Homo sapiens: one gene and its partners. The protein of the gene in region 1 purifies or fractionates together with the protein of each later gene. This does not show direct contact. Each region holds a gene or a part of one and is shown on either strand. Other genes may lie near its edges. The genes, in order: FOXRED2, ZNG1A and VWA8.

Evidence for each region.
Region 2: the proteins of FOXRED2 (region 1) and ZNG1A purify together in Homo sapiens (affinity purification with mass spectrometry; one large-scale study listed by BioGRID and IntAct). This does not show direct contact.
Region 3: the proteins of FOXRED2 (region 1) and VWA8 purify together in Homo sapiens (affinity purification with mass spectrometry; one large-scale study listed by BioGRID and IntAct). This does not show direct contact.

The regions. Positions count from the first base shown.
Region 1 is NC_000022.11:36,493,442-36,497,094, forward strand, and holds part of FOXRED2 (FAD-dependent oxidoreductase domain-containing protein 2 isoform 1 precursor), read right to left. Parts: intron 2,814-3,653; exon of another isoform or gene 2,768-2,813; coding exon 2,526-2,767; intron 363-2,525; coding exon 192-362; intron 1-191.
Region 2 is NC_000009.12:165,547-169,199, reverse strand, and holds part of ZNG1A (zinc-regulated GTPase metalloprotein activator 1A), read left to right. Parts: intron 1-3,653. UniProt on the Homo sapiens protein: Zinc chaperone that directly transfers zinc cofactor to target metalloproteins, thereby activating them.
Region 3 is NC_000013.11:41,569,671-41,573,210, forward strand, and holds part of VWA8 (von Willebrand factor A domain-containing protein 8 isoform a precursor), read right to left. Parts: intron 1,037-3,540; coding exon 798-1,036; intron 1-797. UniProt on the Homo sapiens protein: Exhibits ATPase activity in vitro.

The DNA of each region.
Region 1 (3,653 bases):
AAAAAAAAAAAGAAGACATATTATCCATTATTTTTAGGTGAGTTGTAATTTAACCCACGGCATTGTCGGGAACAGTAGTCTGGGGTTTGGATTTCCAGATATGGGTCCTGAAACTCCACGGGTCTTGGGTCTCTGTGACCTTTCTTCAACCTGGAGCTCAGACCCTTTGTCTTTCTGGGAGCTTAAGTTACCTGCATAGAAGCTTCGCAAATCGGTGTCCAAACAGTTCTCCAGGAAGCGCCTCAGAGGTAGGATGTGCCCGATCGGGGCAGTCCAGTCTGTTAAGAAGTCTTCCACGATGTGATGGATGGCCGTGGGCCGAGGCAGGGGCCAGTGTGCAGGGCGGAACCTCACCTCCTGTTCTGTGGGGAGGAGAGAGGGGGCCATGTCAGAGCTGTGAGGCTGGGCTTCCCCTCCTCGGGCCGACACAGCACGGATCCCACACAGCCCAAACACTTCCCTCGTTCACTCGTGCTCGGCTTTCCCGACAGCCTCCTATGCTGGGCTGTGGTCAGACTGTTCAAGAGCCACCTGCAGATATTTGAAAGGCTGCCATGAGGAAGAGGAACTAGGCTTTTCCCTTGTGGTTTCGGAAGGCAGTGCTGAAGCTAACAACGTGAGGCTGGCGTTTCCCTAAGACTCACATGGACTGAGATCTACTGTGGCTGCTTTTTATTTTGTATTATTATTTGTTGGAGACAGTCTCGCTCTATTGCCCAGGCTGTCATGCAGTGGCACAATTTAGGCTCACCGCAACCTCTACCTCCTGGGTTCAAGCGATTCTTGTGCCTCTGCCTCCAGAGTAGCTGGGATTACAGGTGCCCGCCACCACACCGAGCTCATATTTTACATTTTTCGTAGAGATGGGGTTTCTAGTCTCTACCATGTTGGCCAGGCTGGTCTCAAACTCCTGACCTCAGGTGACCCACCCGCCTCAGCCTCCCAAAGTGCTGGGATTACAGGCATGAGCCACTGCGCCTGGCTGTGGCTGCTTTCAAACTGGCCTTTCTCTGAGAAGACTCAGATAGAGGCGAGGGGTCTCAGCACTCATCTAGTTCAGCTTCTCCCTGGTGTGGGCTCCCTTCTGTGGTGTTCCAGTCAGATGGCCATCGAGTCAAGACTTGGCCGTCGCTATTCTGGGAAACCTGAATTTGGAGGTGACCAATTCCCCCACTGAACAGCTTTAACTCTTAGTGCCTCCTTTTTCTTTTTTTTTGAGACAGAGTCTCGCTCTGTCTCCCAGGCTAGAGTGCAGTGGCACAATCTTGGCTCACTGCAGCCTCTGCCTCCTGGGTTCAAGCGATTCTCCTGCCTCAGCCTCCCTAGTAGCTGGGACTACAGGCGCACGCCACCACGCTGGCTAATTTTTGTATTTTTATTAGAGACGGGGTTTCACTATGTCGGCCAGGATGGTCTCGACCTCCTGACCTCGTGATCCGCCCGCCTCGGCCTCCCAAAATGCTGGGATTACAGGCGTGAGCGACCGCGCCCGGCCTTTTTGTTTGTTTGTTTGTTTTTTTTGAGACAGAGTCTTGCTCTGTAGCCCAGGCTGGAGTGCAGTGGTACAATCTCGGCTCACTGCAACCTCTGCCTCCCGGATCCCGGTTCAAGCAATTCTCCTGCCTCAGCCTCCTGAATAGCTGGGATTACAGGCATGTGCCACCATGCCCAGCTAATTTTTGCATTTTTTTCATGTTTTTTTAGAGATGGGGTTTCACCATTTTGGCCAGGCTGGTCTTGAACTCCTGACCTTATAATCCGCTTGCCTTGGTCTCTCAAAGTGCTGGGATTACAGTCATGAGCCACCATGCCCAGCCTCTTAGTGCCTCCTTATACTGACCACAGACCTGCACCCGTCACTGCTACCTGCTGACACGACTTCTGCCTTTGGGAACAACCCCTGTTTAAACCACCCTCTTCTACCTGACTGCCCTTCAAGCTCTGAAGCAGGGGGTGCGTTCCCGAGGTTGTTCACTTATTGGTAGCTACTCTGTGCCTGCAGTGGGCTGGCATTCTGTGTACACTGTCAGGTTTAACCTCATGGAACCCTACAAGAAAGGTACTGTTGTAATCCCCATTTTACAGAGGGGAGGTTGAGGCTCAGAGAGGTTAAGTAATGGTCCAAGGTCACACAGTGACAAAATGACAGGCCTAGGGATTTTGCCCAGTTTCTCTGTACTGTGTTAACCAGCTCCAGTTCCCTCTACTCTTCAGACCCCTCCCGCCCCACCACAGTCAGCCGCCTCTGGAGACCTGCAGCAGGGCCGTGTCCCTCTTACTACACAGTGCCTGGCGGAGAGCACGACACCCCCCGCATGGCCTGTGCCAGTCACGGTATGTGTCAGAATCTGGAAGCATCGTTCATCATTCTCGGACCTTCTGCCCAAGTGGTCTCTAGGCAGAGTCCCGCAGCCATCCCACCTGTCAGCTGAGCATGTGTGTGAAGGTTTCAGGGTGGGTGACAACCTTGCAGACGGTGAGGTCTGAGGAGCCCACAGGTTGGGGAAGGGCAGAGACCTGCTCACCGGTGGGGAGGTATCTATAGTAGTAGATGACAGGATGAAGAAAGTTAGACTGCCAGGCATCTTCTGTGTGCCCCACAGACCGGTCATCAAAGAAGACGTCCTTGTCGGGGCCAGAGAAATTTCTGCCATATTCCATGTTGATGACGAAGAGCCCGTGCTTTGCCTTCCTCCCTGTGAGTGTCTCCAGCTGGGCCAGCATCTGTATGGGGAACTCCTCCAGGTACTCAAAGGCCGTGGAATTCCTGGGAGAACAGCAACGCGGGGGAGGCCCTCAGTGCTGTGGCAGAGGTGAGGGGTGCAGCCCGGGGGTGAGCATGTGTGTGTGCGTGTGTATCTCCCCCTCTAAGGAGCGTCAATCAAGCAGCACACCCCTCACTTAACATTACTTTTTCAGCTCAGCTCTCACGCACATGTGGGGTAGAGACCAGAAAATTCCATGTAACCTGAATGGGATATCTGGGGAAAGAGTGTCCCAGGCAGAGAGAACAGTCAGGAAAAAGCCCTGAGGAGTATGTGAGCACTTTGTGTTCAAGGAACAGAAGAGGCCGACGTGGCTGAGGGGAGTGAACAGCAGGCAGAGGGCAGGAGAGGGGGCCGGAGGCCTTGAGAGGTCAAGGAGGGCTGCGCCTCCCATGACGAGACGTGAGGAGTCGTCTGGCCCGAGAGGTGACACTGCTGGTTGCTTGGGAGGACTGAGCAGAGCTGGGATCAGCATGCCTCAGGTTTCTAAGGACCACTCTGGTTACTGTGCTGAGAACAGACGCCAGGCCAAGTGGGGCGGCTGTTGTATGGGTGCAGGTGATACAGCCTGGTGATCGGGACCGAGGTGGTGGTGGTAGAGCAGGTGAGAGCTGGTTGGGCTCCAGACATCATCTGAAGGCAGAGGTGACAAGACTTGCCCATGGTTTGCATGTGGGGTGTTGAGACAGGGGTGCCAGGCGTGCTGACTCACGCCTGTAATCTCAGCACTTTGGGAGACCAAGGCGGGTGGATCACCTGAGGTCAGGAGTTTGAGACCAGCCTAGCCAACATGGTGAAACCTAGTCTCTACTAAAAATACAAAATTAGCCAGGTGTGGTGGCATGGGCCTGTAATCCCAGCTACTCGGGAGGCTGAGACACGAGAATC
Region 2 (3,653 bases), on another chromosome or scaffold:
TCAAACTCCTATTCATGTTGATACTTTGATCTCCCATGAATCACAAATGTTCTTAATGGCATCTAGAATGATGAATCCTTTCCAGAAGGTTTTCAATTTACTTTGCCCAGATCCATCAGAGGAATCACTGTCTATGGTAGCTATAGCCTTATGAAATATATTTCTTAAATAAGACTTAAAAGTCAAAGTTACTCCTTGATCAGTGGGCTGCAGAATGGATGTTGTGTTAGCAGGCATGAAAACAACATTAATCTTGTACATCTCCATCACAGCTCTTGGGTGATCAGGTGCGTTGTCAATGAGCAATAATATTTTGAAGGAATCTTTTCTTTTCTAAGCAGTAGATCTCAATGGTGGGCTTAAACTAAACCGTGCTGTAAACAGATGTGCTGTCATCTAGGCTTTATTATTTATAGAAAACAGGCAGAGGAGATTTAGCATAATTCTTAATGGCCCTAGAATTTTTAGGATAGTAAATGATTATTGGCTTCAACTTGAAGTCACCAGCTGCTTTAGCCTCTAACAAGAGAGTCAGCCTGTCCTTTGAATCTTTGAAGCCAGGCATTGACTTCTCTATAGCTATGAAAGTCCTAAATGGCATCTTCTTCCAAAAGGAGGCCATTTCATCTCCATTAAAAATCTGTTGCTGGCCGGGCTCGGTGGCTCATGCCTGTAATCTCAGCACTTTGGGAGGCCGAGGTGGGCAGTTCACGAGTTCAGGAGTTCAAGACCAGCCTGGCCAACATAGTGAAACCCCATCTCAGCTAAAAATACCAAAAATTAGCCTGGCTTGGTGGTGGGAGCCTGTAATCCCAGTTACTTGGGAGGCTGAGGTAGGAGAATGGCTTGAACCCGGGAGACGGAGGTGGCAGTGAGCTGAGATTGCACATTGCACTCCAGCCTGGGTGACAGAGCGAGACTCCATCTCAAAATAAATAAATAAATAAATAAAAAATAAGTCTGTTGCTTAGTGTAGCTACTTTCATGAATGATGTTAGCTACATCTTCTAGGTAGTTTACTACAGCTTCTATATCAGCATTTGCTGCTTTCCCTTGCACTTTTATGTTATGGAGATGGCTTCTTTCTTTAAATCTTGTGAACCAACCTCTGCTACCTTCCAACTTTTCTTCTCTAGCTTCCTCACCTCTCTCAGCCTTCATAGAACTGAAGAGAGTTAGGGTTGCTCTGAATTAGGCTTTGGCTTAAGGGAACATTGTGGCTTGTTTGATCATCTATCCAGACCACTTCATATCAGCAATAAGGCTGTTTTATTATCATTTGTGTGTTTACTGGAGTAGCACTTTTAATTTCCTTCAAGAACTTTTCCTTTGCATTCACAACTTAGCTAACTGGCTCAAGAGACCTAGCTTTTGGCGTATCTTGGCTTTCAACATAACTTCCTCACTAAGCATAATCATTTCTAGCTCTTGATTTAAAGTGAGAAACAGGTGACTGTTCCTTTCACTTGAACACTTACAGGCCATTGTAGGATATTAATTGGCCTAGTTTCATGTTGATCATATTCTTTATGTTGTCATGGTTCTGTCATAATTCTTTTAGTTCTATGTTTTAATAGTTTTGGTGCTTATTACCAGTACTGTTGCTTCTCCATTCCCGAGTTAGTCCATCTCCTGATTGAATTTCATTGTCAGGCAGTCTTTTCAAGTTACAGGTACTGCATGCATTCTTTGGGTTCTTATACACTTCATTGATTCAAAATATTTGTCTTTTGTTTTTATATTACTTGAAGGATTACTTGGCTAGGTATAAAATTTATCAGTCACACTTTATTCCCCCTCAACTTTGTAAATGTTGTTCCATAATCTCCTAGTGTTTGATTGGCTGGATTTCTTTGTCCAATGTTTTCTCTTTTTATTAGGAAGAATTTGTGAGTATTATAGTCTCTGAGTTTCAATGCTTGCTGTTTTCTTTAATGCTTGAGAATGTCTGTCTATTGCTTTCGTTCCTGAAAAATAACTTGTTTGGGAACACTTTCATTAGAACTTTGTGGTCCCTGTTTTATTATTTTGGGACATCTAGTGTTACTGTAGAAAAGTCTGATTTTTCTCCCTACCTCCTTGAAGGCAATTTTTTTTTTTAATCTAAAATGCCTGAGAGTTTTCTTCTTTATTTTTGAAATTCAGTAATATAAACAAGGTATATCTAAGTGTCACTTATAATCATTTTTCCCTAAATTATAGTATGCCCTTAGTTCTTCTAAGAACATTTTCCTTGTTTATTACCATGAATACTTTTTTTTGGTCAAATTATTAGATCCTCTACTTCATGACACCAGTTTTTTTAATACTGAATTTTCTTTTGTTGTTCGTATGTATTCTAATTGCTTTGATTTGTCTTTTACCTTTGCATTTACTGTGATCATCTGAAGCCTTTCTTTTTGTCAATAATTCTGTTTTCTCCAGTGTCTGTCCTGTTTTTGATATTTTAAATGAATTAATTGGTTAAGTCATTGTGTTATATAGGCTCTAAGTTTCTTTAGCGCTACAAACGCATTTTCATCTTATTCTGCTTCTTCTTGCTTTTGAGCTTGTTTATTATAAGGTTGTATTGTTTTCAAGTTCTTCATTATGATGAAGTTGTTGAGAATTTTCTTTAGTTTTTATTGGGTTATGTATCCTTCCAGAATGGGTTCTTTGCCACTTGTGTGCCCTATTCATTTCTTCATTTTGTGTTCTTTCTTGCTTTTTATTCCCTGTATGTGCGTGTTTCTTTTTGTCAGGCTGTAATACATATGCATACATGTTTCTTCTTGATGTGGGAGAACTTCTATGTGGTGCTGATGGGAAATATTTTTAATACTCCACTCTCCTTACCCAAGTTTGTTTTTCTCCTGAGCCCTAGTTTGAAAGCTGTATATTGTTGGAGTGGAGGGAAAGAGAAGGGAAAAGTGGTGATTCAGAGAGCCAAATGGGGCAATGTGGCTTTTAGGCTCTGCTCTCTTGAAGTACCAAGTATTTCACTCTTGGGTCTGCCCAACTGCTTATGAATAAAATTCCTTTGCCTTGTATGGGGACATCATTCGACCTCAGAGCTCTCATTTCTCTTTGTTCTGAGCCCTAGAATGTGACCTGACCTTCTCCTTCCCAAAGCAAAGAGATGGTTAAAACTCACTCTTGAAATTTTTTTGTTGACTTTTCCTTGTGTTGCTTATTCATTCCTCGGCTCTACTTTTTGTCATTTTGGAGTGTATTTCTGGTAAGTGTTTAGGATTTTGTAAACTATTTCCCTACAACCTCTTATTGGAGGTAGGGGTAGAGTTGGGAATGACCATCAATCACATATAACTTTGTTTCTTATTTTGACTATCAGTCTTCAAAATTTATGGCAGGCCCTTTTATATTTGGTTGCTGCTAATAAAATGTTGGCCTTTTTGTTTTATTTTTTGTTTTTATTTTTTGTTTTATTAGATTTTGAAGAAGGGAGATTCTAAAATGTAGTTCAGGTTTTCTCAGTGTCAGCACAAATAACATTTTGGGTTGGATAATTATTTGTTGTGAGGGGGTTGCCCTGTGCAGAGTAGGATATTTAACAACATCCCTGGCTTCTACCCACTAGATGCCAGTAGCATTCCCCTAGTTAAGACAACCAAAAACATCTTCAGACATTGCCAAATATTCCCTGGGGAGAAAAG
Region 3 (3,540 bases), on another chromosome or scaffold:
TTTCACTGGTGTTTTATGTTTCTTACAGGTATTTTAAACACAGAAAAACCATGAGCTCTTTCTGTTTGTAATTCAAAAAGATAAATGTTATTGTGTTCAAGTTATGAAAGTGTTTCCAGATCTCTCCTTTCAGATCATACCCACTGGTATTTATTGTCTGATCATAAGATTCTCTATTGAATATTTAGTATATTCAGTGTAGTATCTAACTATATGTATATTATCTTATGTTGTCGCCAAGTGTTTCACCTGCCTTGTCTCTCCAGCAATAAGAAGGGATACATGTGAGTGTGTCTATATATATATACAGGCATGCATATATGTAGGTGATGTCTCTATGGGGATATAATACATATGTGTGTATATATATGTCTAATATGTACAGACATTCATACACACACACTATCTCCTATGCTAGGAAAATAGTAGATGTTCACGATTTTTAATATGATTTGAACACAAAATGATTAGCCTGAGCTTAGGAGCTTGACATAAAGTGCCAAATGTATAAAATACTACCCGGTTTATTAGTGACAAATCAATTTGTCAATGATTTATTAGTGGCTTAAATATAAACTAAAAAATAATTAATTTAAAATTATTATTGTTCATCTAAACAAAAGCTAGAACATATCCCCTCAACTAGATTATAAACCCCTTGAGGCTAGTAACTTTAGTTTCTGTTTTTCCTCCATCTGCCTCACTGTCCCTCATGGTGCTAAGCCTATAAAACAGCATGTGTTAGCTACTCAGTATCTCTGTACCTGCCCTTTTCTGTATGCTCAGATGACACTTACCTGGTTGCTTGATCACCTAAAGAGCCAATAAAAATGGCAAAAGCATTTACTTGAGGGTCTCTTGTGAGGATTTGAGCAAACTTAGCAGGATGTATTCCATATCGTGACAGATTTGCATCACTCAAGACTATGACAAAGTACTCATCAGCTTCTTCTTTGACAATTTCCTTGATGGCATGTTCTGTCCCTTCTAACGTGTGGTCCCCACTCATGCAGAACTGAGAGTGGGCATGCATTGTCTGGAGGTAAAAGAAGTTGCACAAAAGCCATGGCTGAGAAACTTCTTTTTTAACAAATACGATTATTTTTCTATTGACCATGAGCATGCATACATACCAATTATTACCCATGAGTAGTACATTCTAAGTTAGTTCTATTTAATTTGCATATTTGAGTGACAACAGTATACAGTGATATTTGTTATCTGGCATAGAATTTCATTAGATATAGGATATCATTCCAAAATTATCACAGTGGGCACTTAGTTTTAAGTGGAAGCTTGCACTTCCACTTAAAGTGAGAAAATATAAGAAAATATAAAACTTGGTATCACATTGGAGGATGCAGATGACACAGGAGGAAAATAAGGAATGAGTTGAGTTTCCAATAAACAAAGGTATAATACTAAAAACATTGTACTCACGTCAATAACGATGGAGGAAAGTGACTTAAAATTGTGATGTGCATTTTTCTGTTGCAGGCTTAAGTGTGTGAAATGAATTACACATAAAATTGGGGACAGGGAGCACTCTAAAAGCGGTCATTCTGCTTACCAATGATATGATTGTATATCTAGAAAACCCTGTCCCTCTCCCGTCTCCCTCTCCCGTCTCCCTCTCCCTCCTCCCTCTCCCTCTCCCGTCTCCCTCTCCCTCTCCCGTCTCCCTCTCCCTCTCCCCGGTCTCCCTCTGATGCCACCAAAGTTGTCAAAGCCGAGGCTGGACTGTACTGCCGCCATCTCGGCTCACTGCAACCTCCCTGCCTGATTCTCCTGCCTCAGCCTGCAGAGTGCCTGGGATTGCAGGTGCCCGCCGCCACACCTGACTGGTTTTTGCATTTTTTGGTGGAGACGGGGTTTCGCCGTGTTGGCCGGGCTGGTCTCCAGCTCCTGACTGCGAGTGATCTACCTGCCTCCGCCTCCCGAGGTGCCGGGATTGCAGACGGAGTCTCGCTCACTCAGTGCTCAACATTGCCCAGGCTGGAGTGCAGTGGCGTGATCTCGGCTCGCTGCAACCTCCACCTCCCAGCCGCCTGCCTTGGCCTCCCAAAGTGCCGAGATTGCAGCCTCTACCCGGCCGCCACCCCGTCTGGGAAGTGAGGAGCGTCTCTGCCTGGCCGCCCATCGTCTGGGATGTGAGGAGCCCCTCCGACTGGCCGCCCAGTCTGGGAAGTGAGGGGCGCCTCTTCCCGGCCGCCATCCTGTCTAGGAAGTGAGGAGTGTCTCTGCCCGGCCGCCCATCGTCTGAGATGTGAGGAGCCCCTCTGACCGGCCGCCCAGTCTGGGATGTGAGGAATGCCTCTGCCCGGTGGCGACCCCGTCTGGGAATTGAGGAGTGTCTCTGCCCGACCACCACCCCATCTGGGAGGTGAGGAGTGTCTCTGATCGGCTGCCCCGTCTGAGCAGTGAGGAGCCCCTCCGCCCGGCAGCTGCCCGTCTGCGAAGTGAGGAGCCCCTCCGCCTGGCAGCCGCCCCGTCCGGGAGGGAGGTGGGGGGTCAGCCCCCGCCCCGCCAGCCGCCCCGTCTGGGAGGGAGGTGGGGGGCGCCTCTGCCCGGCTGCCCCGTCTGGGAAGTGAGGAGCCCCTCTGCCAGGCTGCCACCCCGTCTGGGAGGTGTACCCAACAGCTCATTGAGAATGGGCCATGATGACGATGGCGGCTTTGTCGAATAGAAAAGGGGGAAATGTGGGGAAAAGAGATCAGATTGTTACTGTGTTGGTGTAGAAAGAAGTAGACATGGGAGACTCCATTTTGTTCTGTATTAAGAAAAATTCTTCTGCCTTGGGATGCTGTTAATCTATAACCTTACCCCCAACCCCATGATCTCTGAAACATGTGCTGTGTCCACCCAGGGTTAAATGGATTAAGGGCGGTGCAAGATGTGCTTTGTTAAACAGATGCTTGAAGGCAGCATGCTCCTTAAGAGTCATCACCACTCCCTAATCTCAAGTACCCAGGGACACAAACACTGAGGAAGGCCGCAGGGTCCTCTGTCTAGGAAAACCAGAGACCCTTGTTCACATGTTTATCTGCTGACCTTCCCTCCACTATTGTCCTATGACCCTGCCAAATCCCCCTCTCCGAGAAACACCCAAGAATGATCAATAAATACTAAAAAAAAAAAAAAAAAAAAAAAAGAAACAGGCCGGGCGCGGTGGCTCACGTCTGTGGTCCCAGCACTTTGGGAGGCCGAGGCTGGCAGATCACAAGGTCGGGAGTTCGAGACCGGCCTGGCCGGCATGGTGGAACCCTGTCTCTACTAAAAATACAAAAAATTAGCTGGGTATGGTGACATGCGCCTGTGATCTCAGCTGCTCGGAGGGCTGGGACAGGAGAGTCGCTTGGGTGTGGGAGGCGCAGGTTGTAGTGAGCTGAGAATGTACCACTGCACTCCAGCCTGGGCGACAGAGCAAGACACCGTTTCAAAAAAAAAAAAAAAAAAAGAAACAAGCCAGGCACGGTGGCTGACGCCTGTAGACCCAGCACTTTGAGGTGGGCAGATCACCTGAGATTGGGAGCTCAAGAC